Linked DNA regions of Homo sapiens. The protein of the gene in region 1 interacts with the protein of each later gene in a pairwise test. Each region holds a gene or a part of one and is shown on either strand. Other genes may lie near its edges.

Evidence for each region.
Region 2: the proteins of CYB561 (region 1) and STX3 interact in binary tests that used the Homo sapiens proteins (3 or more experiments, as listed by UniProt).
Region 3: the proteins of CYB561 (region 1) and TMEM128 interact in binary tests that used the Homo sapiens proteins (3 or more experiments, as listed by UniProt).
Region 4: the proteins of CYB561 (region 1) and CLDN9 interact in binary tests that used the Homo sapiens proteins (3 or more experiments, as listed by UniProt).

What each region holds. Positions count from the first base shown.
Region 1 is NC_000017.11:63,443,298-63,451,133, forward strand, and holds the start of CYB561 (transmembrane ascorbate-dependent reductase CYB561), read right to left. Parts: upstream 3,010-7,836; 5' UTR 2,948-3,009; exon of another isoform or gene 2,601-2,947; intron 1-2,600. UniProt on the Homo sapiens protein: Transmembrane reductase that uses ascorbate as an electron donor in the cytoplasm and transfers electrons across membranes to reduce monodehydro-L-ascorbate radical in the lumen of secretory vesicles.
Region 2 is NC_000011.10:59,751,486-59,758,384, reverse strand, and holds the start of STX3 (syntaxin-3), read right to left. Parts: upstream 3,010-6,899; 5' UTR 2,780-3,009; coding exon 2,750-2,779; intron 2,518-2,749; exon of another isoform or gene 1-2,517. UniProt on the Homo sapiens protein: Potentially involved in docking of synaptic vesicles at presynaptic active zones. Apical receptor involved in membrane fusion of apical vesicles.
Region 3 is NC_000004.12:4,238,209-4,245,232, forward strand, and holds part of TMEM128 (transmembrane protein 128), read right to left. Parts: intron 2,272-7,024; coding exon 2,113-2,271; intron 1-2,112.
Region 4 is NC_000016.10:3,008,211-3,015,016, forward strand, and holds CLDN9 (claudin-9), read left to right. Parts: upstream 1-4,712; 5' UTR 4,713-5,152; coding exon 5,153-5,806; 3' UTR 5,807-6,295; downstream 6,296-6,806.

The DNA.
Region 1 (7,836 bases):
CAGGCCCTGACCAAAGGGTAAGAGAGAAGGCATTACAGGAGGGTGAACAAGCCGCAGGGGCTGCATTTCCATTTATCCTAGGGCGGCTGTCCTGGCCCAGGCAGCCCAGGGACCCGGGGTATCCAGGCTGCTTGGACCAGGTACCAAGGAACTAGGTACCCAGGAAGCAGCAGAGCCTGAAGTCAAACACTGAGCTCCTTTCTCCCACAAGACAGAGGGCTCCCAATGCTTACAAACCAAAATGTTTCCATTTCCATGAAAATCAGAAGAAAAAAATGAACATTTAGGGTTGAGGAAAATGTTGCAATTTTTTAAAACTTATTTTAATTAATTTTTTTGTTGTTGTTGTTAACAGTGTCTACCTCTGTCACCCAGGCTGGAATACGATGGCATGATCATAGCTCACAGCAGCCTCGAACTCCTGGGCTCGAGGGATCCTCCCACCTCAGCCTCTCAAGTAGCTGGAACTACAGCTATGCTGAAATGCCCAGTTAATTTTTTCTTTTTTTGGAGAGATAGGGTCTCACTATGTTGTGCAGGCTAGTCTCAAACTCCTGGTCTCAAGCAGTCCTCCTGCCCCAGCCTCCCAAAGCTCTGGGATTACAGACAGACATGAGCCAGCCCTAAAATGTTTTGTTTTTAAAATTAATTGTAATCCAGTCTGGACTATACTTGTATTTATACCAATGCAGTTGTAAAATATAATTTTTATTAATTTTTTTTTTTTTGAGGCTGGAGTGCAATGGCAAGATCTCGGGTCACCGCAACCTCTGCCTTCCGGGTCCAAGCAATTCTCCTGCCTCAGACTCCCCGAGTCTGGGATTACAGGCGTGCTCCACGATGCCTGGCTAATTTTTTGTATCTTTTGTAGAGACGCGCTTTCACCACTGCGCCGGGCCAATTGTTATTATTTTTTTTATGGAAGACGGGGCCCGTGAAGGCCAGAGGGCCAACGGCCCATGAAAGGCCCAGCGCAGCCCAGGTTAGAGAGATGTGATTTCAAAACAGACTCATTATTTATAACCATCAGCTCCTGGACAAGCCAAGTCCCTTCTCCAAGCCTGCTTCCTAATCTATAAAGTGGAGGATATCTGGAGCTACCTTATTGAACACAGAAGGAGTAAGTGGATAAAGGTGTGCCAGCGCCCAGCACAGTGCCTGCCACAAAGTAGGCATTCCATCAAAGACCAATCTTACAAAAACGAAATCTGGTCCTAAGAGCACCTTAGAAAGAGTCACACTGCTGACACATGAGGTTTGGGGCCACAGAGAGCCAGATGGCAGCCGTCTCTAATAAATCTACACTCCATTGCTGTCCACCATTAGCCCCTGCACACCAAGCAGAAGCTCCTGGGGCTGGAAGAACACAGGATGGTCTGCTTTTAATCTGTGACATTGTATATTCCCAAAATTCATTTATGAATTGTTCAGACAGTAGAGTGCTTTTTCCCAGTGAAGCTACGCTTTCAGAGGGGGTTAATTTCTCATTCCCCTCCACCAATGCCATCTAATGCCACTGAACCATCCCAGTATTAGCAGGAGCCCAAGCTCTGCCTGCCAAGGAAAAGTGGTGAGGGCAGAAAAGTAGTAGGACAAGGCTGGGCACGGTGGCTCACGTCTGTAATCCTAGCACTTTGGGATGCCAAGGCGGGCAGATCACTTGAGGTTAGGAGTTCGAGACCAGCCTGGCCAACATGGTGAAACCCCGTCTCTCCTAAAAATGCAAAAATTAGCTGCGTGTTGTGGCACACACCTGTAATCCCAGCTACTAGGGAGGCTGGAACAGGAGAATCGCTTGAACCCGGAAGATGGAGGTTGCAGTGAGCTGATATTGCCCTCTGCACTCCAGCCTCCTGGCAACAGAGCAAGACTCCATCTCAAAAAAAAAAGAAGGAAGGAAAGTAAGGAAAGCAAGAAAGCAATAAAGCAAGAAAGAAAAGGAGTGGGACAAGCAGGGTGGTTCCACCTCCAGCTCTAGGAGGCTCCCTCATGCAAGGAGGTGGGGCTGCCACCGCCTCGTATTTTCCTGCCTCCATCAAATTTCACCGGGAGAAATCCAGGCACCTAGAGGAGGTGGCAAAGCTTTTTTTTTTTTTTTTTCATTAGCTATTAAACCAAAGGGGCAGAATCTAGGCGCCCTAGATGTAACTTCATTTACGGAGTCAGAAAATCCACAAAGGCTGCCAAGGTGGAATGAATGAGAGGAGGACGACCAGAAAGGAGAAGTCTGGGAAGGGGACCCCAGATCCACACGGATGATCCTCGCTCCGTGATACAGTCGGGGACAGGGCAGGGAGGGAGGGAGGGAGGGTGGCCCTGCCATCTCCCAGGTGTCAAGGTGGCGGCAGCTCCGCCCTCAGCGCAGTTGGCACCGGCCTGACCCACCACAGGGCCACCGAGGCCACCGAAGCCATGGGGCTTTCCCACTCGGGAAACTCCCACCCTCGCGCTCAGAAGCTGGGGGCGTCGGGAGACACAGGCGGGGACCTGCGGCTCCACGTTGCAGCCCGGGCCCTGCTCGGGGCAAGAGGCGGTGGCTCCGGTTTCAGATTTCAAGAGGGCAGCCGTGGCAAAGGCTGGTTGGTCCATTTGCACCCTACCTTGCTCTAGAACGCGGCGCAGGAGCAAAGATCCAAACTCGGGGTCACCAGCAAGCGGGGGTCTCGGTTCTAACTTCAGCAGAGACCCGGCACCCGGGCAGGCCAGGGCAGGGGCCGCCTGGACCGGGAGAGGCTCGGCTCCGAGAGGGCGGGCGAGCCCTGCAGCCCTCGGGCCCAGGGTGCGGGTCGGCGCCGCAGTCCAGTGCGCGGCCGCAAGGGGCAGGTGCGAGGCCGGCTGCTACTCGGGAGCCCCGCGCTGTCCCTCCCTGCGCAGTCAGGGCTCACCTGGGCCGCCCCCGCCCCGCACCCCTGCGCGCTCCGCTCCCACCCCCAGCCCGGCCTCCTACCTTGCCTACCCGAGCGTCCCTTCAGCCTCCCCGCGCCGCGCCCGGGTCGCTTGGCCGGTTCTGCGGGCCGTGGCGCGACGGCGTCGCCATGGCAACCGGGCGGCGGGCTGGGCGGTGTCTCCGGGACCGGAAGTGGCGTACGCGGCCCCCGGGGCTGCCCCGCACGTGCCAGGTCCCCGCGGTTGCGGCCACGCTCGGGACCGGGCCCTGCCAGCTCCGGGCCCGCACGTGGGCGAACCGCGGCCACCGTGAGCCCGGCCTCGCGACCTCCCTCCGGGGCCCCCATGATCGGGGGTGCGTGGGATCTGCGGCCTGCGGGGGTGGAGGGCCGGGAGCTCCCCCGGGCCTGCCTCGAGGGCCGCGGGATTCGTCCTTGCGAGCCCCGACTGCGCACGGAAGGACCTGGGGTCGGCCAGGCCTGGGGGATGGGACGGGCCCCGAGGAGAGCGGGTGCCAGGGGCGAGACCCGCCGCCCTTCCCCGGCTTGGTCCCGCGCTTCCTGATTTTCTCGCTCCACGCCTCCCATTCTGCCCTCCACCTTCTTCCCTGCCCCGCCCTCGCCCTGCCCGGGCCCAGGAGGCCACTAGATGTCAGACCCGGTTCGGGCCTTGGCCACGCCGCCGCTCCGGGAGCCCTGGGGGCACCTCCCCAGCCCCCACGGGGGAGACGATACTGCCGGGAAGGCCCGGACTAGCCCCCGCCCCCGCAGAGTAGCCTTCGGGGAACACCGATTCCACCAGGCTCTCACGAAAGCCGAGAGCTTGCCGTCCGCAGCTTCCCCTGCCCAAAGCGCAGAGAAACGAGGGCGCCGAGGCCAAGACCAAGACCGGGAGCCAGCCCCTTCGGAGCCCGGTCCAGGCCCCCGGTCCAGGAAGTGCTGTGGGTAGATAAGGGGCCCAGCTCAGACTTCCTACAAGCTGGGAAGAAAGGGTTCTTTCCTGTCTGATGCCGGGCCAGATGTAGCAAGCGCCTAGGGGTAGGAGGGAAATGGGGTTTCCTCCCCGCAGAGGGAAACCGGCCTCCATTCAGGAACGCCCTCCCCCACCTGCCCTCCAGGCACCGAGGTTCTGGGAGGCCGGGGGGCAGGGAGACCTGCTTACTTGAATGCGCTTTGTGTATTGCCTGTGTATTGCCACAGGCAGTGGGCAAGATAGGCCCTGGGGATCCAGTACTCGCTTAGTACACAGAGAGCAGTCTCCAGCGCCAGGCGAGACGCACAGGCGTGTCAGCTGCATATGGCACACGGTGGCACATGGCACACCTTCCACGAGCAGACACAAGGGGCCGACACAGCAGGGCCCACCCCCTCAGAGGGACCAAGCTTAAACCCTCCAACAACAGAAAATTTGTAGAGTATCTTTCAGTTGGAGGAAATTAATGGATAATTTAAAGTAAGAAACAGTTTCCTTAGCGTGCTAACAGGCAGAATCCCTGTGGATTGAAGGTGGAACTGAGCCATGTCCTTTGTTTGGTCTGTGGATTTAGACGTGGAGGAGGAGTCCTGACCGGCTGAGCAGGGCTGAGTTCCCTCGTGAGAGCCCCGGGCCTTCAGCCCCTTCCAAAGCCAGGAGAGACTCCTGCTGAGGGGTGATAGGGGCCCTTTGGCTTCCCCCTCACCCCACGGCCCAGCAGCACGGGGCTGCAGGCTTTTCCCTTAGGAGGAAGAGCAGCCGCCTCCCTGCCAGCAGTGTTCTCAAGGGCCTGCTTCAAGTGGGGAGGGGTGGGTGAGGGTGTTCTGACTGAGGGAGAGGCCTGCACACCCGCTGCATGGGGGGGCTCATGGCTACACCTAACCCATTTTAAAGAACAGGCAACGCCACCAAACTGCTCTCTGGCACTAGGGCCCAGAGGCCTTGCCCCAGCTCCCAGATGTCCCAACCCAGGACGACAGACACCCAGACTAACTACCTTGCAACCCTGTTCCTGCTGCCGAAGCTCCTGCCTTGGAAGCCTGAGAAGTGTGCAGTCCTTCAGCTTGGGAAAGGTGGGAAAGGAGAGGACCCCTCCTGCCCTTTCTTGAGTGGCACAAGATGAGTTCCAGGGCCTCCTGAGTTGTGCTAACGCCTGTAATCCCAGCACTTTGGGAGGCCGAGGCGGGCGGATCACCTGAGATCGGGAGCTAGAGACCAGCCTGACCAACGTGGAGAAACCCCATCTCTACTAAAAATACAAAATTAGCCGGGCGGGGTGGCACATGCCTGTAATCCCAGCTACTCCGGAGGCTGAGGCAAGAGAATCACTTGAACCCAGGAGGCAGAGGTTGTGGTGAGCCAAGACCGCGCCATTACACTCCAGCCTGGACAACAAGAGCAAAACTCCGTCTCAAAAAAAAAAAAAAAAAAAAAAGGAAATGCTGACTGTGTTTCCATGTTTCCACTCCCTTCCCACATCGCAGAACCACGCTAGCCTTTCTGTTTTCAGATGCACCAAGTTCACTCCCACCTCTCCATGGAATGTTCTTTCCTGGATCATCTCTGGTCACATTCTCTCAAATCTCAGCTCAAACATCACCTCCTCAGGCCTTCCCTGACCATCCAGAGGGCAGCTGGGGCAGGGATTAGGAGGTAGGAGTGCTCCTGGATTCCGCGTGCTGGGCAGCCAGGCCTAGAGTGCCCCCTGGTCTCTGACAGAAAGCATTTAAGGAGGAGGAAGCATCAAGGAAGCAGGCAGAATGTGAATAGAGAGCTGGAGACTCAGGCCGTAGACCCACCTGGCACCTGGCTAGTCACTTCTCCCTTGCTAGGGTTACCAGATTCAGAAAGAAGAGGAAAAAATAAAAAAAGGCTTCCCAGTTAAATTCAAATTCAGGCCGGGTGCGGTGGCTCACACCTGTAATCCCAGCACTTTGGGATGCCGAGGTGGGTGGATCACCTGAGGTCAAGAGTTCGAGACCAGCCTGACCAACAAGGTGAAACCCCGTCTCTACTAAAAATACAAAAATTAGCTGGGCAAGGTGGCAGGCACCTGTAATCCCAGCTACTTGGGAGGCTGAGACAGGAGAATTGCTTGAACCCAGGAGGCGGAGGTTGCAGTGAGCCAAGATTGTGCCACTGCACTCCAGCCTGGGCAATGGAGTGAGACTCCATCTCAAAAAAAGAAAACCAAAAAAAAATTCAAATTCAGTTAGTTTTTTCAGCATGAGCATGTCCCAAATATTACATGCAGTATACTAAAGATGTATTCCAGCTGGGTGCCATGGCTCATGCCTGTAATCCCAGCACTTTGGGAGGCTGAGGTGAGCGGATCACTTGAGGTCAGGAGTCCAAGACCAGCCTGCCAATGAGGCAAAACCCTGTCTCTACTAAAAACACAACAATTAGCCAGGCATGGTGGTGGATGCCTGTAATCCCAGCTACTGGGGAGGCTACGACAGGAGAATGGCATGAACCCAAGAGGTAGAGGTTGAAATGAGCCAAGATCATGCCACTGCACTCCAGCCTGGGGTGACAGAGAGAGAATCTGTCTTAAAAAAAAGATGTATTCCTCACATGTGAGCAGATGTCCTGTGTTTCATCTGACAATCCTACTGCTCTTGCTCGGGTGTGGGAAGGGCAGGGGCCCAGTTCTAGCCCCTCCCAGCAATGGCTTCCTCCCTCATCTCTGAACCAGTTAACCCTCATTCAGTAGGGACTTCAGGCAGAGGCCCTGACCTTGGGCAGCAGAGGATACAAAGGGATAAGAGATGGTTCCCCAGTCCTCAGACACTATAAGATTCAAATGCACACCATTCATTCTTGGGAAAGTTTTATTTTTGTACCTTCTCTGTGCCAGGCACTAGGTGAGGTATTGGGGAACAGTGAACAAGACAGGCACCACCCTGTTCTCACAGGCCTTCAGTCAGGGGAGCTGCACAGAGATTTGGGGAGAGCCTTTGAAACTACTCTGCCCAAGCCCATCTCTGACCACCTTACAGAGGGAAAACCAGGATTAGGTACAGGGCATAGGAAGGCCCTCAACCCAGATGTGAGGGTCAGGGAAGGCGTATTGGGTCATGACAGAATTATCGAGCCAGAAGATGCTCAGGTGTTAACCCGGCAGAGATAGTCAGGGAGGAGGCAGGAGTGTCCCTGGTTAGAGGAGCAAGGATGATGCAAGGGAAGGCTGTAGGGGGCTAACCTGCAACCCTCGGGGCTCCCAGGCTTATTTTCATGAGGATTTGCCGGAGCCAGAGTAATAGTGCAGAACTGAGCCACAGCCTGCAGAATCAGCACTCAGGAGCCAAGCCCTGTCCAGCTCAGGAGGGGGCCTGCCCTGAGGGACCTCACAATTGACAGACACAGCCCCCGACCCCATATCCTGCAGTGGAGCAGCCTTAAGTCCGCAGGTATCATCTTCCGGGCCTGCTCCCTGAGGAACTTGAAAGTACGAGGCTACTTTGATGAGCTTAAAATAGACCAATTAATCACTCAGGGAGGAAATCCATCTCCCAGCTTCGGGGGAGGGGACAGGAAAGCAGTAGCCCCGGCAGGACCCGTCAGAGCAGCCAGCAGCACAGCGGCCATGTGGCAGGGCACCTGCAAGGCTTCCGGAGCCACCGACGAAGACCCTGAGTCACCTGCAGCCTCTGGAGTGTGGGGGGAAGGAGGCTGAGGGACGTCATTGCCTGTGAGTTGTCACCCTGCCCCTGGTTAACCCCAAGGCTGGTCAGTCTGGGAAAAACAAGACAGACAAAAGAGCCAAATACCACTGGGGCAAGAGGGAGGGAGAGGCCATGACAGAGAGGACAGTTAAGCCACCTTTTTTTTTTTTTTAAGACGGAGTTTCGCTCTCCTTGTCCAGGCTGGAGTGCAATGACAGCTCACTGCAACCGCCGCCTCCGTGGTTCAAGTGATCCTCCTGCCTCAGCCTCCCAAGTAGCTGGGATTACAGGAATGCACCACCACGCCTGG
Region 2 (6,899 bases), on another chromosome or scaffold:
GGACAGGCTCACAATTAAGCATTTTATAAAACCACACATTCTTAAGGTTGGTGAAGGCCTTATATCTCCTAGTTCACCTCCCCTCCAAGAGATGCTCAAATTCCTACAACATTCAAAATCCCAACAAGCTTCTTGCTTCCTTCCCATGCTGGAGGGTGCACCATCTACTCCATCCTTGGGCAGCTCTGTCTACTAAAAACGCTTTCTTACAGATTCCTCATTTCTACCCATCAACCCCACATGTTCTCTTTGTATCTACCCAGAACAAAGTCAATCACAGGCACGGAAAGCCCTCCAGTTATCGGGAGGCAGTTACCACCTCCCCTCCCCAGGATTTAGAAAGAACACCACAGAAAGAGATTGCATAGGCTGCTCAATGTGCAATTTGTTTCATGCAGGTTAACAAACGCTTCTAATTGATAACGGAAATCAGAGGGAGAAGACGCATATCTTGTTTCAGTGAGGGTGATCCCTGGGAGTCTGGCTGGGGAGAGGGGATAAGAGGAGGTGAACTGACACCAAAATCCACATAAACCTTAACAGTCTTCAAAGAAAAACCTATAATAACGCCAGAGGGGGCTTCTGAGATCAACTCAATTCTTTGTTGTATAAAGGAGGAATTGAGAAGCAGAGAAGTGACGCAAAGAAGCACAGTGATCAGTCTTGGAACCTGCCACCTGTGTCCCTTTGTCCCACGCTGCCATGCATCTGCTCCAAGACGCTACAGAAGCCACCCTGTGATTTCAGAACAATCCTCCCATAATACCACCACCATCTCCAGTCTCACTTTCACCACATCCCCAAGAGGGAAGGGGAGGAAACCTATCATTAATTCCATTGTACAGAGGGTAACCATGAGGCACCGAGGAGAGGCAAAGAGACTTGCTCAGCGTCCCCAGGCAAATTAAATTTATTCTTGGAACTCAAAGCTCAGTTAAGACTCTTTGCTCATTGTTGACAATGAGCTACTGAAAGGGGCCATGGAGTATCTTCCTCTGGAAGTGGATTTCCTAATAAATGGAAGAGCCTGCTGTTCAGTTTTGTACTTTTTTATGGTTGCTGGGTGTGCCGACACAGAGAGATCTTCAAAATCGTGCTCTTCTTTTCCTTCTGCCTCCCCAACCAGCGTGCTTCAAGGGAAGGAGCACTGTGGAGAGTGTCAAGAGCCTGGGTTCCTCTCCTGGTGGTGCCCTGGCCGGCTCTGTGTCCTGGAGCATCCCTCCTACCCCGTGAGCAGCAGTTTCCCCATCTATAAAAACAGGGGCAATAAATTCTGCCCCATCAGTAACCTGGACGCTGTGAGGCTGAGATGACTAAGCACAAGCCTGAGGCAGAGAGGCCACTCCCACAATAGGCAACTGTCCCTTTGCTTCTCTCACTTCCCCAGCTACCTGCCTCCTCCGCAGCCCTGCTACACAGAACAGGTGAAACAGGAATGAAGGTCTCATCCAAGCAAGGGAGAAAAAGGATAAACTCTTGTAACATCATCCCAGCAGTCCCTGACATCTGCATTTTCCCAAGAGCACTCACAGTTATTAGCATATTTCACCATTTATTAAGTCCCCCGTGCCATGCACCCTAAAAGTGTTCTTAAGCATCTTCTGTTGCATTTCGACCTTACAACTACCCATTTTACAAATGACAAAACTTAGGCTGGGATTTTAAGGGATCACCAGTAAGCAGTGGAGCCAGGAGACAACCCCAGTTCTAATCCAGTCCAGTGCTTCCCAAACTGTAATGTGCCCATGAATCACCTGGGGAAATGGATGAATAATTAGATTCTGATTCTGCGGGGCTAGACTCAGGCCTAAGCTGCTACACTTGTAACAAGCTCCAAAGTAGATGGACTAAACTCTTGAGTGTCAAGGGCTAGATTTTAATTCTATTAAGGTAGAACCTGTGCCACTGAATCTCCAAGGCTTAGCACTGGACCTCCCCATAGAATACACTCAATAATTATGTACTGAATGAGTCAATGAATATCTGGCTTAAAACCCTATGCGTTAACCCTTTTCTGTATCAAGTTCCATTGTATCAGCTGATCCTCCCAACAAATTCCTAGGGTATGATCATTCCCATTTGATAGATAAGGAAACAGAGACTCACAGTAAGTAACCTAAGGCTTTACAGCTTTTGCGCAGCCAAGGCTGGAGGTAGTCTACCTTCAGATCCTTTGACCTAACCACAGCTGTTCCAAAAGATACGGCGGGGGAGGGGGGGACAATGACACCCGGGGATAACAATTACAGACCACCGGTTGGAGAGGAGCTGACCCATCCCAGCATGTGACCGGCTCACAGCTCCAGAGGTCACCAGAGAGCTCTGAGCTGCTCCCTGGGGGAAGGGGCAGCCAGGCCTGTAGCACCTCAGGAGAGAAACAGGAAAGGGAGAAGGAGGCTGGTCCTGGGCATAGTGCCAGGCAGCAGTGGGCAGGTGGTGAAGGGACCCCTGACCTCCCGGGCCCAAGCACCCGCTTCGGGAACCAGCTCTGGACAGACACTGTCCAGCTTGCGGGGTGGGAGAGTTAGAGGCGTTCAGGAAAATCATTGCCTAGCGATGAATCACCGGGCACATGACCCCGCAGGGGAGGGGAGGGGAGGGTGCGGAACCGGCGCGGGAAGCGGTGGGGGCTTGGGGAGGGCAAGCCTCCGGCTCGGGCCCCCCTCCAGCCTCGACTTGGGGAGCAAAGGGAAGCCCCTCTCCCATGCAGCACCCCTCCTGGCAGCACCCCGCCTGCGGCGAAACTCACGGCCTTCAGCTGCTCCAGACGGTCCTTCATCCTGAAGCCCAGGCGCCCGGAGGCAGGTAGCGCGTCCCAGGTGAGCGCGTCCCAGGTGAGCGCTTCCCAGGTGAGCTGCCGGAAGCGGCGGCCGGGCCCGCCGGGGCGAAGGAGCTGGAGGCGCAGGCGGCGGCGGGCGGCGGCCGCTAGCTAGGAGGAGCGTCCGAGGCCACGGGAGCCTCCGCCGCGCAGCCCCCTCCGCCCCCACCGGCGCCTCGCGCTCCAAATCCGGCTCCCGGGCCGGCGCCGGCGCAGCGCTGATCCGCCCTGGACCCGCCCCTACCTGGCCGCGCCCCTCGCTCCTTCTTAAAGGGCCCGCGTCCCGCCACCGCCCGGCCGCCCGGGGCGTCTCCAAAGCCCCCTTCCCTAACCCGAGAGCCCTCCAGACACGCGTGGAGTCCGGGGAGAGGCCCCTGCACCGGCGGATCCTGCCGCAGGGCCGAGGAAGAGCAAGAGCGACTGTCTGGCTGCGGTCATTCGCTGTCTGTGCCGGGCTCCTCGCTAGGATCCAGTTCTTAGCCGACTCCTTGCTAGGCGGGGACAAGCTCCCGAAAACAAATAAGACAATGTGATGTGGGCTACATTGGGTGGCAGTCGAGTGTTCTAAAAATATCCCGCCAGGAGGAAGGCATTCCGAGTAGCGGGATCCCGCGCAGCCTCAGGGCTGCTGGCAGTGAAAGTGGGGGGATGGAGGAGGTGTCCAGAGGAAAGACCTGGAGATCTGGAGATACAGGACGGTCAGGGTGGTCAGAGAATTTGGATCTTTTGCTTGTTGGAAATCGGGACCGCTCCGAGAAACGTAAGCAGCTCGATGTTGTTAGTGCCAGTGGAGACACTTGGCACTCACAATTTGCAGACGTTTGGGAAAGCATCGTTTCTCAAGAGGACCCCGTTCCCGTGTCTGTAAATCAGAGATGGTACCCACTTCGTAGTTCGCTGTGAAGCCTGTGAGCGAGGAGGGGCTTTAAAATACAGAACTTTGCACTGGAGCGCTCCCCGTCCTCGCAGCCTGCTTGGTGTGCAGGTGGTTCCCAGGCGGCTTCTGCTTCCGAAAAGCAGATCGTCCCTTTATCTCGAGTCTTCTCCCCGCCTCTCCCTCTTCTCCCTACCCTATTTGTCTTCTTGGGAACAAATGGCACATTCATCAGAGTGGAGATCCATAAACGGGACTGGCGAGCCGAAGATTTAATTCTGAAGAATAGGATCTGCTCTGTGCTTTCAGGTTAAAAAGCTGTAAATATCTTTGTAATTCTAGCAGTACTTTGCCCTCTTCTGCCATCTGAACGCGTGCTCCCTGCTGACCTCATCGGCTCCCATAAAGATACGGTGCGTATGGCAGAGGTCGGGCTTTGAGCCGGCCCCGCGGGTCTCGGCCGTAGTTCTCTCTCGCGTCCGGCACACTTCCTTCTGCCCGCTGTGCTCGCTGGGCAGGTTGTCCCCGCCTTAGTACCAGGAGGGCTTCCGCGCCCCCTGGTGGTCATACTAGGAAAGGCGAGTAGATCAGAAATACACACTGTCCCACCTCCTTCCCCTAACACATTTTTGGGGAGTTTGGGGGTTGTTTGTTTGTTTGTTTGTTTGTTTGTTTGTTTTTTAGACAGAGTCTCATTCTGTTGCGCAAGTTGAGTGCAGTGGCGCGATCACCGCTCTCTGCAGCCTCGATCCCCTGGGCCCAACCCATCCTCCCATCTCAGCCTCCCAAGTAGCTGGGATTACAGGCGTGCGCCACTACGCCCGGCTAATTTTTGTGTTTTTTTCGTAGAGATAGGGTTTCGCCATGTTGCCCAGGCTGGTCTGGAACTCCTGTATTCAAGCCATCCGCCCGCCTCGGCCTCTCGAAGGGCTGGGATTACAGGCGTGCGCCACTGCGCCCTGCCCCTTAACAGATTTTTGTTAGTGGGAATACGTAGTTCCCCGCGCTTCAAGAAAATAGAGTCTTCCGCGAGAGGCCGAGATATGAACAACCCTTCACGTTAGGAATCTGAAAAGGACCATTGGGGTCTGGAGTAAAAAATTCTCTTTCCACAGCAGGAATCAAGGGTGGCCTGTCTGCCTCTGCTCAGAGGGTTCCTGTTACAGGATAATTGTTTTGAAAAGAGTAAAATCATGACTCCTCTACAAATATAAAATGCACACACATCAAAGACTTTAATTCATTAATGAATGAGGAGACCAGTAAAGCTAGCCCTGTCCAGAGGAAAACACAAAGTGTACACACATATATAGGCAATCAGGAATGCTGAAACGAACATGTTAATAAATGCACAACTGGCCGGGTGCAGTGGCTCATGCCTGTAATCCCAGCACTGTGGGAGGCTGAGGCGGGCAGATCACTTGAAGTTAGGAGTTCAAGACCAGCCTGGCCAACATCTTGAAACCTCATCTCTACTAAAAATACAAAAAATTAGCCGGGCGTGATAGTGCACGCCTACAAATCCCAGCTACTCGGGAGGCTGCGGCAGAAGAATCTCTGGAACCTGGGAAGCAGAGGTTGCAGTGAACTGAGATCACACCACTGCACTCCAGCCTGGACCACAGAGCAAAACTCTGTCTTAAAAATTATATTTTTAATAAAAATAAATAATAAATGCAGAACTGGCCTCGGGGTGCTGGGAGAGCAATTGCACTTCTACCAGGCATCTCTATGGACAAGAATCATTGGCATTCCTATGAATTTTCTACAACTTACCAAGTTGGAAAATAGCTGCAAGATTTTATAAGGCAAAAATCACTAAAAAATCAGGTAATCCAGAAAGGTGCTTTAGATAAGGCCTAGCATGCCACAGGACACCCAATAATTTTTGGAGTTTTTGCCATTTTAACTTTTTTAGTTTTTCCAGACATTCCCAAGGTGGCACCTTCCATAGTTGTACAGTTTCAACTGTGTTAAAATTTCTTTGTCGGGGACTGTTGTGGGGTGGGGGAACGGGGAGGGATAGCATTAGGAGATATACCTAATGCTAAGTGACGAGTTAATGGGTGCAGCACACCAACATGGCACATGTATACATATGTAACAAACCTGCACGTTATGTACATGTACGCTAAAACTTAAAGTATAATAATAATAAGAATTCTTTGTCAGCTTGGGCAACAGAGTGACACCCCATTTCTACAAAACATACATAAATCGAGCCAGGTGCAGTGACTCACGCCTGTAGTCCTAGCACTTTGGGAGGCTGAGGCAGGTGGATCATGAGGTCAGGAGATCGAGACCATCCTGGCCAACATGGTGAAATCCCGTCTCTACTAAAAATACAAAAATTAGCTGGGCGTGGTGGTGTGTGCTTGTAATCCCAGCTACTTGGGAGGCTGAGGCAGGAGAATTGCTTGAACCCAGGGGGTGGAGGCTGCAGTGAGAATTGCTTGAACCCGGGAGGCAGAGGTTGCAATGAGGCGAGATTGCGCCACTGCACTCCAGCCTGGTGACAGAGCGAGACTCCGTCTCAAAAAAAAAAAAAAAATTAGCCAGGTATAGTGGTGCTCACATGCAGTCCCCAGCTACTCAGTAGGCTGCGGTGCAGGATTGCTTGAGCCCAGAATTTTGAGGCTGCAGTGAACTATGATCACGGCACTGCACTCCAGGCTGGGTGACAGAGAGAGACATGTCTCAAAAAAAAAAAAAATTAAAAGTATATCTATTCCTTTAAAAAGAGGAACAGGATATTTATAATGAAGCACAGATAAAGGGCAATTGGATAATTGTGGCTTTAAACTCCTTGTAATTAAAGAAATAAGCCATCTAATGTATTTCCTCGTTTGAATGTTTGAATAGCCATACTGAATTTTACTGCACTTTTATAACTTTGTTTTGTCCTGATATCTCACAATCACTCAGGGAGGGAGTTAGGGTACATATTATTATCCCCATTTTATTATAAATTAAATTAAGTACAGAGAAATAAGATGATTTTCCCAAGCTCACATAGCATGCTGATAGACATGCTGCAAAAGGCAGTGGTTGCCTGCCCAGGCTGTGGAGCCAAACTACCCAGGTCAAATCTCAGTTCTACCACTAATGGTTGTGTGACCTTTGGCAATTGATTTAATGCCCCTGTGCCTCAATGTCCTTATCCGTAAGCAAAGATAATAATAATACCCATCTCAGCCGGGCGTGGTG
Region 3 (7,024 bases), on another chromosome or scaffold:
AGTCTCTTAGTTTCTGACTTCAACAATAATTTAAATGGCTACAGCCCATTTTTATGACATCACACACTAAACTATCATGGTAAAAAAGACCAAAATATTGTCTCTTAAAAACAGAATGAAAACAGTTATCACTTATAAGCTGCTATTATATCTTTCATTGAGAAAAACACTATTCCTGTCATCAAAGTAAAATTAAAACACTAAGTATAAAGATTTTTAATGACTGAAATTTCTAAGAACAGAATAGGGAAAACTATATTCAAATAAGTTCAGATGGTTATTGGTTTTAATATATAATAGTTTGATAAGTATGAGTATTAAATAACTATAATCACAAATCACACTGTCTAAAAAATTAACATTTCTGGACATGATCTTACCCTCATGGGAAAAAGTAAAACAACGTATCTGCATGCCCCCACATACAGGTTAACAATAACCACATCACACTGTCAAACAACCTTGAACTTCAACTACAGAAAATAAGTCATAGAAAGAATATGTATAAAGGTATATGGTTCTTCCAAAATAAAAATTCAATTAGGCCGGGGGTGGTGGCGCACGCCTGTAATCCAGCACTTTGGGAGGCCAACACAAGCAGATGGCTTGAGGCCAGGAGTTTGAGACCTGCCTGAGCAGCACAGCGAAACCCCATCTCTACAAAAAATACAAAAAATAGCCAGATGTGGTGACACATGCCTGTGGTCCCAACTACTCGGGAGGCTGAGTGAGGCAGGAGGATCACTTAAGCCTGGGAAGTCGAGGCTGCAGTGAGCTGTGATCATGCCACTGCACTCCGGCCTGGGTGACACAGTGAGACCCTATCTCCAAAAAGAAAAAAAAATCCAATTGATATAAAGAAAGAAAAAACTAGAGAGCTGCACACAACATAGGAAAAGTAGTTTTCTTTCTGGTTGAATCATAGGATATATTTCCTTTGTGTTTTCATGTAATTTACAGATTTTTTTTCCTCAGTGAGCAAGTATTACTTTTATAAACCCAAAAAACCCTGTATTTTTCATTGAGTATTTAATTAACTTATGAAGAAGGTTATTCATTGTGGCATTGTTTGGGTATAAATATAACGAAGTCCAACAACAGAAGACAGGTTAAATAAATCATGTTATGTCCATGCTGTGAAAACTATGCAACTGTTTAAAAAAATGAGACACATCTATATGTACCATTATGGAAGAATCCCAAACTATAAGGATCCACTGAAAAACAAAAGGAGAAAAGGACAAACAACCACTTTGGAAAGCAGTTTGGCATGATTTACTGAAGTCAAAGGTACGTACATCCAACAATTTTACCCCTTGGGGTACATATATATACATATATACATACATCTCTACACCCAACAGAAATGTGTTCACTGTGCTACAAGAGCCATGTACAAGAATGCTCTTTATAGCATCCTTCATAGTAACCCCAAACTGAAAAAAATCTAAACACAATCAACAAGGGAAAAGAAAACTGGGATTCAATTAAACAATGGAATGCTAAAGAGCAATGAAGATGAGTCACTGTTCCCGGCGACAATATGAAAGAACTGCACACAATGCTGCACACAGCCAGCTCAATGTGAAGGAATACACCCTGTACAAATCCATTTCTATAAAGTTCAAAAGCGTAGCTGAAACAAAAATAGAATATCTAATGGAAGCAAAGCAAGTAGTTACCATGAAGGTCAGGGCAGTATTTACCTGTGGCAGGAGGGAAGGTGTAGTAACTGGGAGGGAGAATGAAGGGGGTTCCCAGTGTGCTGGCTCAGTTTACACCAATGCTCACTTCATGAGAATTCATTCACTAATTCATTCATCTCAGTTTTTTTCACTTTTCTATATGTACTGTATGTCATAATAAAATAGATTTAAAAAGCAAAATGCAGAATATGTACAGAATGTCACCATCTGTGCTTTAAATAACTAGATCCATAAATAGAAGGAGAAAGAGATACTAATCAAAAGGGAACCAGAGAGCATGAATGACCAGGAGACTATTTTTCTGTTTTAACTTTTTTTCTTTCGAAGTTTGGACCAAGCATATCACTATCTGATCAAAAAAAAAATTTGTTGTTCATTCCTGTTAGTCATTTCAAAGTTAACTTACCAAATTCCTGCTGCAATAAAGGAGGCAGTGGTAATGGGTATCAAGGCTGGATACTTGACATCATATTCTCCAATTCCACAATACCATTCCAGGTAGACTATGCAGTAAAATGCAATTGATAAACTGACAAGCAACAAGGCACTGCCACAGAGAAACCAGCTGTGGAGATAAAAACAGTAAGAGGTCTGACAGCACTTAATGAATCGTCACATATCTTAAAAGTTTTTACTAATAGCTTAAAAATCTGCTTCTAAGAATATCAAGTGTTGCAGAGGGAGCCATACTTAAACAATCCATGCTTTCAGAAAGTCTCAATCTATGGGAGATGGGGGTGAGAAAAAGAGATACACAACTCAGGAAAGAATGAAAAGTAAGACTTGAAATACATGCATTTATATATACACTCTCATCAGCCAACCAACCAAGGGAAAATTCTGGTCATGACAATGCATTTTCTTTAAAAATACAAGGAAGAGGCCGGGCGCAGTGGCTCATGCCTATAATCCCAACACTTTGGAAGGCCGAGGCAGGTGGATCACCTGAGGTCAGGAGTTCGAGACCAGCCTGACCAACACGGAGAAATCCTGTCTCTACTAAAAATACAAAATTAGCCAGGCGTGGTGGCGCAAGCCTGTAATCCAATCTTCTTGGGAGGATGAGGCAGGAGAATCGCCTGAACCCAGGAGGCAGAGATTGCAATGAGCTGAGATGGCGCCATTGCACTCCAGCCTGGAGTGCCTGGGCAACAAGAGTGAAACTCTGTCTCAAAAAATAAAATAAATAAAAACAAAAATACAAGGAAGATAGTGGCTTTCTGGTTGTTTCTGAAGTTTTGAGTGTGACAGGATTAAAGAAGTTTATCAGTGGGAAACTTCATTCCTCCAAGTTAAGTGGACTTTCTTGGAATACTGAAAGACAATTAGGAAGATCAATAATTCAAATTTTCTCTCATAAAAGATTTCTAAATGAAATCCTCCCATTTTCAAAATATCTTCTACTCACCACCTCACCCTCAATGCCAATGCCTTTTTACTCCCTTCCAATTCCACCTGTGACCTGATTCAGCAAGAGTGAGGCAACCTGGACAACCCCTTCCCTCCACCCCAGCTGGACTTGGGGACTGAAATGCCTTTCCCATTCTCCCAACTCAATCCAATATCCCATCATCATCTGCTTCTCTATGGGAAAAGCCTGACAATCCATGTGGAAGAGAGAGGGAGAACAGATGGCTACAACAGATAAGTTACAAAGGCACAAAGTGAACTTCCAATAATGGCAAGGTTCCGGATTCCATGAAGGCTTTTTACGATGATGCAATTCTGAGATTCGGAGTCATGAGAGGCTGTAGAGGGAAGGGGTTAAGAGCACAGCCTCTGAAATCTGTCTGTATGGGTTTGAATCTTAACTTGAGCAAGACTAGTTTTGTGACTCTAGGCAAATTACCTAACCTCCGTGTGTTTCAGAAATATTGACAGTACTTAACTCAGAATAGCTGTGAGAATTAAATCAAGTGGTCAGCAAAGTGCTCCTCACAGCTGACTCTCAATCATAATCATTATTATTCCACTCAAGTTATTTTTATTTTCATTCATTTATTTCTGAGCCGGAGTCTTGCTCTGTTGCCCAGGCTGGAGTGCAGTGCTGCAATCTCAGCTCACTGCAACCTCCGCCTCCCAGGTTCACCAATTCTCCTGCCTCAGCCTCCCAAGTAGCTGGAATTACAGGCACTGGCCACCACGCCCAGCTAATTTTTGTATTTTTAGTAGAGATGGGGTTTCACCATGTCCATATTGGCCAGGCTGGTCTCGAATTCCTGACCTCAAGTGATCCACCTGTCTCAGCCTTCCAAAGTGCTGGGATTATAGGGGTCAGCCACCATGCCCAGCCATCACTCAAGTTATATCTATGAGGAAAAAATGTCCATGTTCATCTTTAGGAGTCTTCAAAGACCTCTCTTCTGCTAGAGCATGCAATCTCACTGGGGGGAGTATCGCCCCCAAAGTGAAGAAAAAAATATGGCTCTAATTGTATGTATAAAGCATAGATATGCATGCAGTATATAAATGATATAGTTTATCTAATTCCACATTCCACAGGAATGATTAGGAAAAAAATGTCTAAAAAGGCCTTTTATCATTACCCCTAAGGAGTCTTTTTAGACATTTTTTTCCTTTGCCAACATGTGGATATGAGAAAAAAAAAATTTTTTTTTTTTGAGACGGAGTCTCGCTGTTGTTGCCCAGGCTGGAGTGCAATGGCACGATCTCGGCTCACTGCAACCTCCACTTCCCAGGTTCAAGCTATCCTCCTGCCTCAGCCTCCTGAGCAGCTGATATTACAGGTGCCCAACACCACACCCAGCTAATTTTTGTATTTTTAGTAGAGATGGGGTCTCACCATGTTGGCCAGGATGGTCTTGAACTCCTGACCTCAGGTGATCCATCCACCTTGGCCTCCCAAAGTGCTCGGATTACAGGCATGAGCCACCATGCCCGGCCTAAGAAAATTTTTTAAACTGCCTGAACAAAATATAATACTATCAGTCAGTGGTCCTCGGCCCTGGCTTTATATCACAGTCACCTTGCACCTTTCTAAGAGAAACTACCTAGTCCCCAGTTTCCAAAATTCTGGGCCTGAGCATCTAGGATTTTAATTTTACTTTCTGTCTTTAACTCCACTGTTGATTTTGATGCACACAAGCCGAGTATTTTAAACTGTGATTTCTAAAGCATCACAGTGTTGTTTTGTTATTATTTATTTACTTATTTAATTTTTTTAAGACGGAGTCTCGCTCTGTCGCCCAGGCTGGAGTGCAGTGGCGCGATCTCGGCTCACTGCAATCTCCACCTGCTGGGTTCACGCCATTCTTCTGCCTCAGCCTCCCAAGTAGCTGGGACTACAGGCGCCCGCCACCATGCCCAGCTAATTGTTTTTTGTATTTTTAGTAGAGACGGGGTTTCACCGCGTTAGCCAGGATGGTCTCGATCTCCTGACCTCGTGATCCGCCCGCCTCGGCCTCCCAAAGCGCTGGGATTACAGGCGTGAGCCACCGCGCCTGGCCTGTTTTGTTTTTAATATGGACCTGCTCTCCCATCTTTGAACAATATAAAGAACCTTAAGGCCTCAAGCTTCTAAACTTAGGCTAGAGCCAGAGGAAAAAGAAATCACCTCAGGCGTCAGAAGAACGAGCCATTTTAGCCATTTTCCAAAAGCAGAACTCAGCCGGCACTGTCTTTTGTGCAGCCCTCTCATTTCATGGCTGTTCAATACCCCCCAACTCCCCTTAATGAGTCCTTCCCAAGAAAACAATGCGACTCAAAATCCTCAGCCTTTGAGAATGCATTTCTGCCTTTTTCTCTCTAAGATGACACCTTGTTGAGGACAGATCTATGACTTCTACTTTCTTTCCAACCCCCACAGCCCTGGTCCCAGTGTCTGCGTCCCGGCTTTGCCACACAGCAGTTATGTGGTCCTGGGCACTCCACTTCACTGCAGTTGCCCCCAAATATCTTATGTGTGATCATTTCTTACTCTGCCATTTCTCTAAACTACTAAAAATACCCAATATAAGGACACAAATACAGAAGTTCTCTCACATCTCCTAAAACCTCAAAAAGGTCTCAGTCCTGAGGCTGACCTGGACTAGATATCCCTCCTAGATGCTCCCATGATACCCTGCGCCTACACTTACAAAGCACATACCATGCGGCCTGGTAACTTGTCTGCTGCAGCCTAGAATGAGCTGTTGGAGAGCTAGAAATGCACCTTCCACGTGTTTGGCACTGACAGCCAAACACATCTCAGCCTCCATAAAGTATCTGATGAAGGAAAGAGCAGCTGCTATTGGTGGTGGTTAAAGTACCCATCCCCTCCAGCCAGGTGCAGTGGCTCACACCTGTAATCGCAGTACTTTAGGAAGTCAAGGTGGGAGGATCACTGGAGCCCACAAGTTTGAGACCAGCCTGGGCAACATGAAGAGACCTCGTCTCTACAAAAAATAAACCAAATTAGCCAGGCATGGTGGTGTGCGCCTATAGTCCTAGCTACTTGGGAGGCTGAGGTGGGAGGATCACTTGAGCCTGGGAAGTCAAGGCAGCAAGCCATGATCGCACCACTACACTCCAGCCTGGGTGACAGAGTGCAGCGAGACCCTGTCTCAAAATAAAAATAAAAATAAAGTATCCATCCCTCTTTTCCCAGCCCAAGTTCTAAGAGAGATGACTGAGTCAAGCTGATGAAGATTAAATGTCTGTTATACTGATGCAGCCGTGGGAAGAATATGGCTTTGGTGAGTGATGACAAAGCACTTCCTAATACTGGGTCTCTGACACCCAGAAACAGCCTTACCCACTGGGTTCCAGGTCAAAATGAAAACCTAGAGACCTTTTCCTGTGGGGACTGCCCCTGTGGAATGACACCATGGGAAGGCAGACCAGACTCTGCGCTTCCTATGGGCAGCCGACTTGCAGCAGAAGAAGGTGCTGAGCTACCTTTGTCCAGTTCTTCATCACACACTCAATCAGTCACGCCACCTCCCACAAAGGAGTGAGTGACATGGAGGGGCAGAAGATGGGAGTGTTTAGGGAAAGTTTCTCCCCTAGAAAGTAGAGGACAGTTTAAATAAACTCCCCTCTGCCTACTTTCCCCTGTGGGCTTTTTCCTTGTGGCTCGACAGTCTCCTCCGCCAGAAGTCACTGCTCCTCCTGAAGGCCCTTGAGGAGAAATCATGTGTCCTGCCATGATACGAGGGGACCACAGTCCTGTCTGCATCTTCCTACCCCCACTGGTACTTCCAAATTATTACTCTTGACCCTAAGCACACCAGCCCTCCCAATGCCATGATGCTCACCAACATACCTCTCCCTTCCATTTCTTATCCAAGGGTCTCCACATCACTCTCCAATGTGCAGTA
Region 4 (6,806 bases), on another chromosome or scaffold:
TTTCCTTTGTGGTCAGGCCACACTTCCCCCTCTAAGAGGCGCGGGTTAACCCACTTCGACCCTATCTAAGCTGATCTCTGGTTTCTTCTGCCCACCTGAGCCTCCCTGCCCCTCTTTCCTCCTAGACGGAACAAAAACGAGGTCCATTTTGTCGCTCCAGGAAGGGACTGGTGGAGAGCCGGCTTCCTTTCCTCCCAGGGTAGTACAGTGGGGAAGGTTCCCCTCCCCCACCTCTTTTCCCAGACGTGGTGGATGGGGGAGGGGACTTCGCTGGAGGTGTTAAAGTGCCATTGAGATGGTAACCACACCAAGGGGCCCCCACTTTTCCATATCAATGGCATTCCAGTCCCTGATTAGGCCCCAACCTTAACCCTTCCTTTCCCAAGATCCAACTGAATCCAGGTGCACGGGGGCCTAGGAGAGGGTCTAGGACCTCCCAACCTAGGTCTAGTGAGGGCTGAGGACAACAGGCTAATTGCTACCCATGTGTCCTGGGAATCCTCCCACCATGGGCAGCTCCCCAACCACCCTCTTCCAGCCTCTCCTAGGCTCCAAGATGTTTCTCCACTTTTACTCTCCCCAAGGGGCTTGGGGAGATACTGTGTTTTATCTTAGAGACTTGGGGTGGGAGGAGCCTGAAGCCGCACAGGGCCACTGTGAAGGCAAGTCCAGTGGGTTGGTCACTGAGGTGGGGGTGTGCGCATTTGCTGAGCAGCCTCCACCCACTCTGCTGGCTAGTCCCTGGAGTGTGGGCTTGCTTTCCTTCTTGCTCCGGTGTGGAGATGTTGGGCCAAAGAGGAATTGGGGTCTTAAAAACCTGGGGTCGGCTGGATGCGGTGGCTCACACCTCTAATCCTAGCAGTTTGGGAGGCCGAGGCAGGCAGATCACGAGATCAGGAGTTCGAGACCAGCCTGGCCAATATGGTGAAACCCCGTCTCTAATAAAAATACAAAAATTAGCCGGGTGTGTTGGCACATGTCTGTAGTTCCAGCTACTCGGGAGGCTGAGGCAGGAGAATCGCTTGAATCCAGCGGGCAGAGGTCGCAGTGAGCCGAGATCACATCACTGCACTCCAGCCTGGGCAACAGAGCGAGATTCCGTCTCAAAAAAACAAAACAAAACAAAACAAAACACAAACCTGGGGTCCCCGAGCAAGTGCGGTGGCGCTTGCCTGTAATCCCAGCACTTTGGAAGGCTGAGGCAGGCGGATCACCTGAGATCAGGAGTTCGCAGACCAGCCAGACCAACATGGTGAAACCCCGTCTCTGCTAAATACAAAAAAAGAAAAAAAATAGCCGGGTGTGGTGGCGCATGCCTGTAATCTCAGCTACTTGAGAGGCTGAGGCAGGAGAACAGCTTGAACCCAGGAGGCAGAGGTTGCAGTAAGCCGAGATTGTGCCATTGCACTCCAGCCTGGGCAACAAGCGCAAAACTCCGTCTCAAAACACAAACAAAAAAACCCCTGGGGTCCTCTTATGCCCTTTCCGGGCACAGCGCTCACTGGATGTGTGCAGCCCGCCACTGGGCTACAACGTAGGGGTTTAGAGCTGAATGTGGAACCGGTGAGTCACCGAGGCAGGGCCCGACAGCAAGTGGACCAGCCGTCCCGGTTTCCCTGGAGGACCCAATATTCAAGCTGGGAATGTCCCTCAAAAAAGTGGGATGAGCCGATCACCTTAGGCCCTAGGACAAGGAGGACTTGTTCCGGCCCAGGGAAGAGAATAGCCCCTGGGTTGGGGCTGCTGGGTGGGGGGACTTCCAGGGAGGCAGGCTTGCTGCTGCCTCCTGACAGCTGCCCAAACCTGTGTGGCTGGATTCCTGGAGGCCCCTGGAAGGCTGCGAGGGAGCCCGCTGACCGGCTTGCCTCCGTCTGCAATCTCTGCTCTCCCCACCCCAACCCTGTGAAATCTGAGCCCCAGGGGCTGGGTGAGCTGGACAAACCTGCCACAAGATTCCCTGAGTCCACTGATGGCCATTTTCCAGCCTCTGTATCACCCCCCCATCTTCCAGACTCTGTGGGGCCACCAGGTCAGCCCCCCTCGTACCGGAGGAGCCCCCCTCAGTGGAGAGGCCCAGGGGGTGGTGAAGAGGAGGCCAGGCTTCTGTTTACCTTACAGACCAGCTGATTGGCGCTGGCCTGTCTCTGTGTTTGCAGGGGAGGATCTTAAGCTGTTTTGGGTCAAGGCCCCTTTGCAAATCTGAAGGAAAGTATAAATCTCTCTTCCAAAAGTATCATTTTTTTTAAGAGACAGGGTCTCACCTAGGATGGAGTGCGGTGGCATAATCATAGCTCACTGCAGACTCTAACTCCTAGGCTCAAGAGATCCTCCTACCTCAGCCTCCCGAGTAGCTGGGACTACAGACAGGAACCACCTAACTCAGCTAATTTTTGTGTATATATATATATATATATTTTTTTTTTATTTTAGAAATGGGGTCTCACTGTGTTGCCCAGGTGGGTCTCAAGCTCCTGGCCTTAAGCAATCCTCCCACCTTGGCCTCTTAAGCGCTGGGATTACAGGCGTGAGCCTCAGTGCCCGGACCCAAAAGATGCTAAAACCCTTTCGCAGAAGCGATGCTCATACCCCTAGGTTTGAACCCTGACCGCTCCTTGAGGTTAGAGCCCTTTATACACAATGTCCCACCCACTAGGTGAGGGGCACTGAGCAGGGGTGTGCCTGGCCACTGGCTCCCCGAAGGCAATGCCGTGAAGTGGTGCAGCCACCAGATGTGTGTGGTGGGCACCTCCAGCCCTGCCCGCACTGGCCAGTGGGCTCCAGCACACCCCAGCCCTCCCAGCACCAGGCAGGTGAGAGGCAGTCCCAGGTGAGGGCCCACTCTGAGGATCCTCTGTACCTCCCTGGAAAGTGTATGAATGGAGACAATGTTCCTCACATCCCTTTTCCTTTTTTTTTTTTTTTTTTTTTGAGACAGAGTCTCCCACTGTCACCCAGGCTGGAATGCAGTGGTGCGATCTCGGCTCACTGCAACCTCTGCCTCCGGTTCAAGCGATTCTTCTGCCTCAGCCTCCCAAGTAGCTGGGATTACAGGCACCCGCCACCACGCCCAGCTAATTTTTTTTTTTTTTTTTTTTGAGGAGTCTCTCTCTGTCGCCAGGCTGGAGTGGAGTGGAGTGGTACGATCTTGGCTCACTGCAACCTCTACCTCCCGGTTTCAAGTGATTCTCTTGCCTCAGCCTCCAGAGTGGCGAGTGGCTGGGACTAGAGGCTTGTGCCACCACGCCCAGCTAATTTTTGTATTTTTAGTAGAGACGGGGTTTCACCATGTTGGCCAGGATGGTCTCGATCTCTTAACCTTCCGATTTACCTGCTTCGGCCTCCCAAAGTGCTGGGATATCTAATTTTTTGTATTTTTAGTAGAGACGGGGTTTCACCATGTTGGCCAGGCTGGTCTCGAACTCCTGACCTCGTGAATCGCCCACCTTGGCCTCCCAAAGTGTTGGGATTACAGGCGTGAGCCACCGCACCTGGCCGTCACACCCCTTTTTCAGACAACAATCCTCAGAGGTTCTTAGCACCCAGGCAGGGGCTTGAAGGAGTTCATGAACCCTCCCCCACAAATGAGGGGCACATGTTTGTGGGTGCATGTTCTGTGAGTCCCACGGGGTTTCTCAAGTGGGTCTTTGACCAAAGGAGGTTAAGGACCTCGACCTTCCATGACCTGTCCCAGGTAGGGGTCAGGATTTGAGCTTTGGTCAGTGGGACTCCCAGGCTGTCCCCATGAGTGGAATCACAGGCTCTGAGGGGGTTTTTCCGGAGGTAAGGCTTTCCTGCAAACTGGAAGGCAGGTCTTGGGGACACTTGAGTCCCTGGACTTAACCCCCGTGCCCACCTCTGGGGTGTTTTGGCCCGGGAGGCCTGACTGGCCACTCACTCACCCACCCATGGAACATAACCGGGTCCTGGGCTGTGCCCCACCCTGGGTTCCAGCCCCAGCCCGTCCCGCCTCCATCCCCCTTCCTGAGTGCCCCCCAACCTCCACAACAGGCCCCTCATCCTCTGGCCTCTGGAGATCTTAGGCAGCTCAGCTCAGCCTCGGTTTCAGCAGCAGGGGTGGCAAGAGCGCACCTGAGCTGAGGTTGAAGTGGGGGGTAGTTTTCTAGGCCGTTGCCAGGGCGATGCCACCTGAGCTGGGCGCCAGGCACCTGTCGTCTGGGGAACAGTGCAGGCGGGGACCTTCCCCCGGGAGCTAGCGGGGCCACTGGGCTGAGACGGGGGATGGATCAGATTCCAGAGAGTCCCAGGCGGGCGGGAGTGTGCGATACTCGGGGAGCTGGGGCATGTTTGCATCACGAAACTCGGCTGGGGGAGAGCAGAGGCAGCTGGGGAGGGGCTGCGGAAGGAGGAGGCTCAGGAAGGCAAGCCGACGCCCCCTGTGTGTGTTTCTGTCCTGAGCCTGTTACTTTTTTGACCCCCGATCCGTCTCTTCTTCCTCAGCTTGTCCTCCATCTTCCCCTCCTTTACCCTTGGTTCCCACATGCACAGATGCTACGGACGCTTTTCCTCCCCTGTCCCCACTCAGCCGCAGCATCCCCCGCTGGCCCCCAGGCCCCTCATCCATCCGCTGCCCACGAACCCCCAGCCCCGCACCCTCCCCGTGGCTCAGGTCTCCCCTATCCCGGCCTCCCTGCACTTCACTCTGCTCCTCCCCTGCCTGGGCCTTAAAACCCCGCCTGCAGCCGAGAGCCCGCAGAGTCCCCAGGTGGCACTGTCAGAGTCGCTCAGTGGGAACCTGCGCCAGCCGGCAGGAGACGTGGCTGTCCTCAGCCTGGCAGTGCGTCTGGAGGGCCTGTGCGAGCTCAGCCCAGGTGTGACAGCGGGGTGGTAAGAGCAGCAGCACCCTCAGGGCATCCGATGGGCGGAGGCCCCTCGAGGTGACACCCACCACTCAGCCGAGCGGGACTACGAGTCTGCTTTGTGCTCCGCGAGGACCAGAAACACCTGCAAGAGGCACGGAGAGGAGGCGCCTTTCAAGAGGCGCCTTTCATGGAACTGAGGACTGGCCTGGCTTGGGGACACCAACAAGCCTTCCCCCTCCTGCTGGACACAGAGACACCCACCCAGCACACCAGACACACCCTCTGAGTCACCTAGGCCGCCTGGGGCTGAGAAGACCTAACCGAGGGGCCAGATGGCTTCGACCGGCTTAGAACTGCTGGGCATGACCCTGGCTGTGCTGGGCTGGCTGGGGACCCTGGTGTCCTGCGCCCTGCCCCTGTGGAAGGTGACCGCCTTCATCGGCAACAGCATCGTGGTGGCCCAGGTGGTGTGGGAGGGCCTGTGGATGTCCTGCGTGGTGCAGAGCACGGGCCAGATGCAGTGCAAGGTGTACGACTCACTGCTGGCTCTGCCGCAGGACCTGCAGGCCGCACGTGCCCTCTGTGTCATTGCCCTCCTGCTGGCCCTGCTTGGCCTCCTGGTGGCCATCACAGGTGCCCAGTGTACCACGTGTGTGGAGGACGAAGGTGCCAAGGCCCGTATCGTGCTCACCGCGGGGGTCATCCTCCTCCTCGCCGGCATCCTGGTGCTCATCCCTGTGTGCTGGACGGCGCACGCCATCATCCAGGACTTCTACAACCCCCTGGTGGCTGAGGCCCTCAAGCGGGAGCTGGGGGCCTCCCTCTACCTGGGCTGGGCGGCGGCTGCACTGCTTATGCTGGGCGGGGGGCTCCTCTGCTGCACGTGCCCCCCGCCCCAGGTCGAGCGGCCCCGCGGACCTCGGCTGGGCTACTCCATCCCCTCCCGCTCGGGTGCATCTGGACTGGACAAGAGGGACTACGTGTGAGGCGGAGGTTTCCCCTGGGAGCCCACTGCTCCCCACTGCCCCGCCCTTTCGACCTTGGCCTGATGACCAGATGCCCTGCTCCATCACAACCTCCTTCCCCAGGAAAACCCACTTTCCAAAAGCCCAAGCTACACCTGGCTGCAGGGCTGGGTCAGCTGGCCTGGCTGAGCTCTTCTCAGTGGGGTCCCCTTTGATGTTCTCCCCCAAGTTGGGCAGCCTAGAGGTGTTGGGAACCCTGGCCTGCCCCCACCTCCCCAGTAATTGTTTCCTTCCGTTGCCCAGGACACTGGCTGGCCTTCCTTCTCTTCTGAGCCCTCCCCTGCCCCAGGAACCCTGGCCTCACCAAAACAGCAGCAGCTCGTTGGCTCCAAAACCAGGGAGCAGACCATGCCCTCCCAACCCTGGAGTTGTCAGGGAGGGCCTGCCCATCACCTCCCTCTCCCCAACATCCCCACCCTCGAGTTGGAAATAAAGAGCATTTGTAACTGGGCTCCCTCTAATCTGTGCGCCGCCGCTGGGGCTGGGCAGGCACAGCCAGGTGGCCTCCCTTGGTGGCTGTCAGGCCAAGGTCTGGCTCTAGGTTCTGCCTGGTGGGTATGCTCACTCAAGCCACGGGGAGAGGGGATCGTGACTCACTTATGCCCATCTCTTCCCCTAGCCAGGGTGGGCACTCAGTAACCCGCTGCAACACCAAATGCACTAACAAAACATGCTTTATTTGATAAAAATGTGAGTGTAAAGGGGGTGAGACGAGGGGGGCAGGGCAGAAGGGTGCAGTGTTGGAGGTGGGGGCGGGGGTCTACATAGCTGGGACCTGGCCCTGGGGGGTGGACGTCTTATCAGGACGGAGGAAACAGAGGTCAGAAGTTCCGGAGGTGGGCAGTCCTTTGTTAACAGATCATTTGTTTTTCCAGGGGTGAAGAGAGGAGCTCCAGAGACCTGAGTAGGATGGGGGGCAGCTGTCCAGTGACATCTAGGGAAGCCCAGCCCCCAGCAGCAG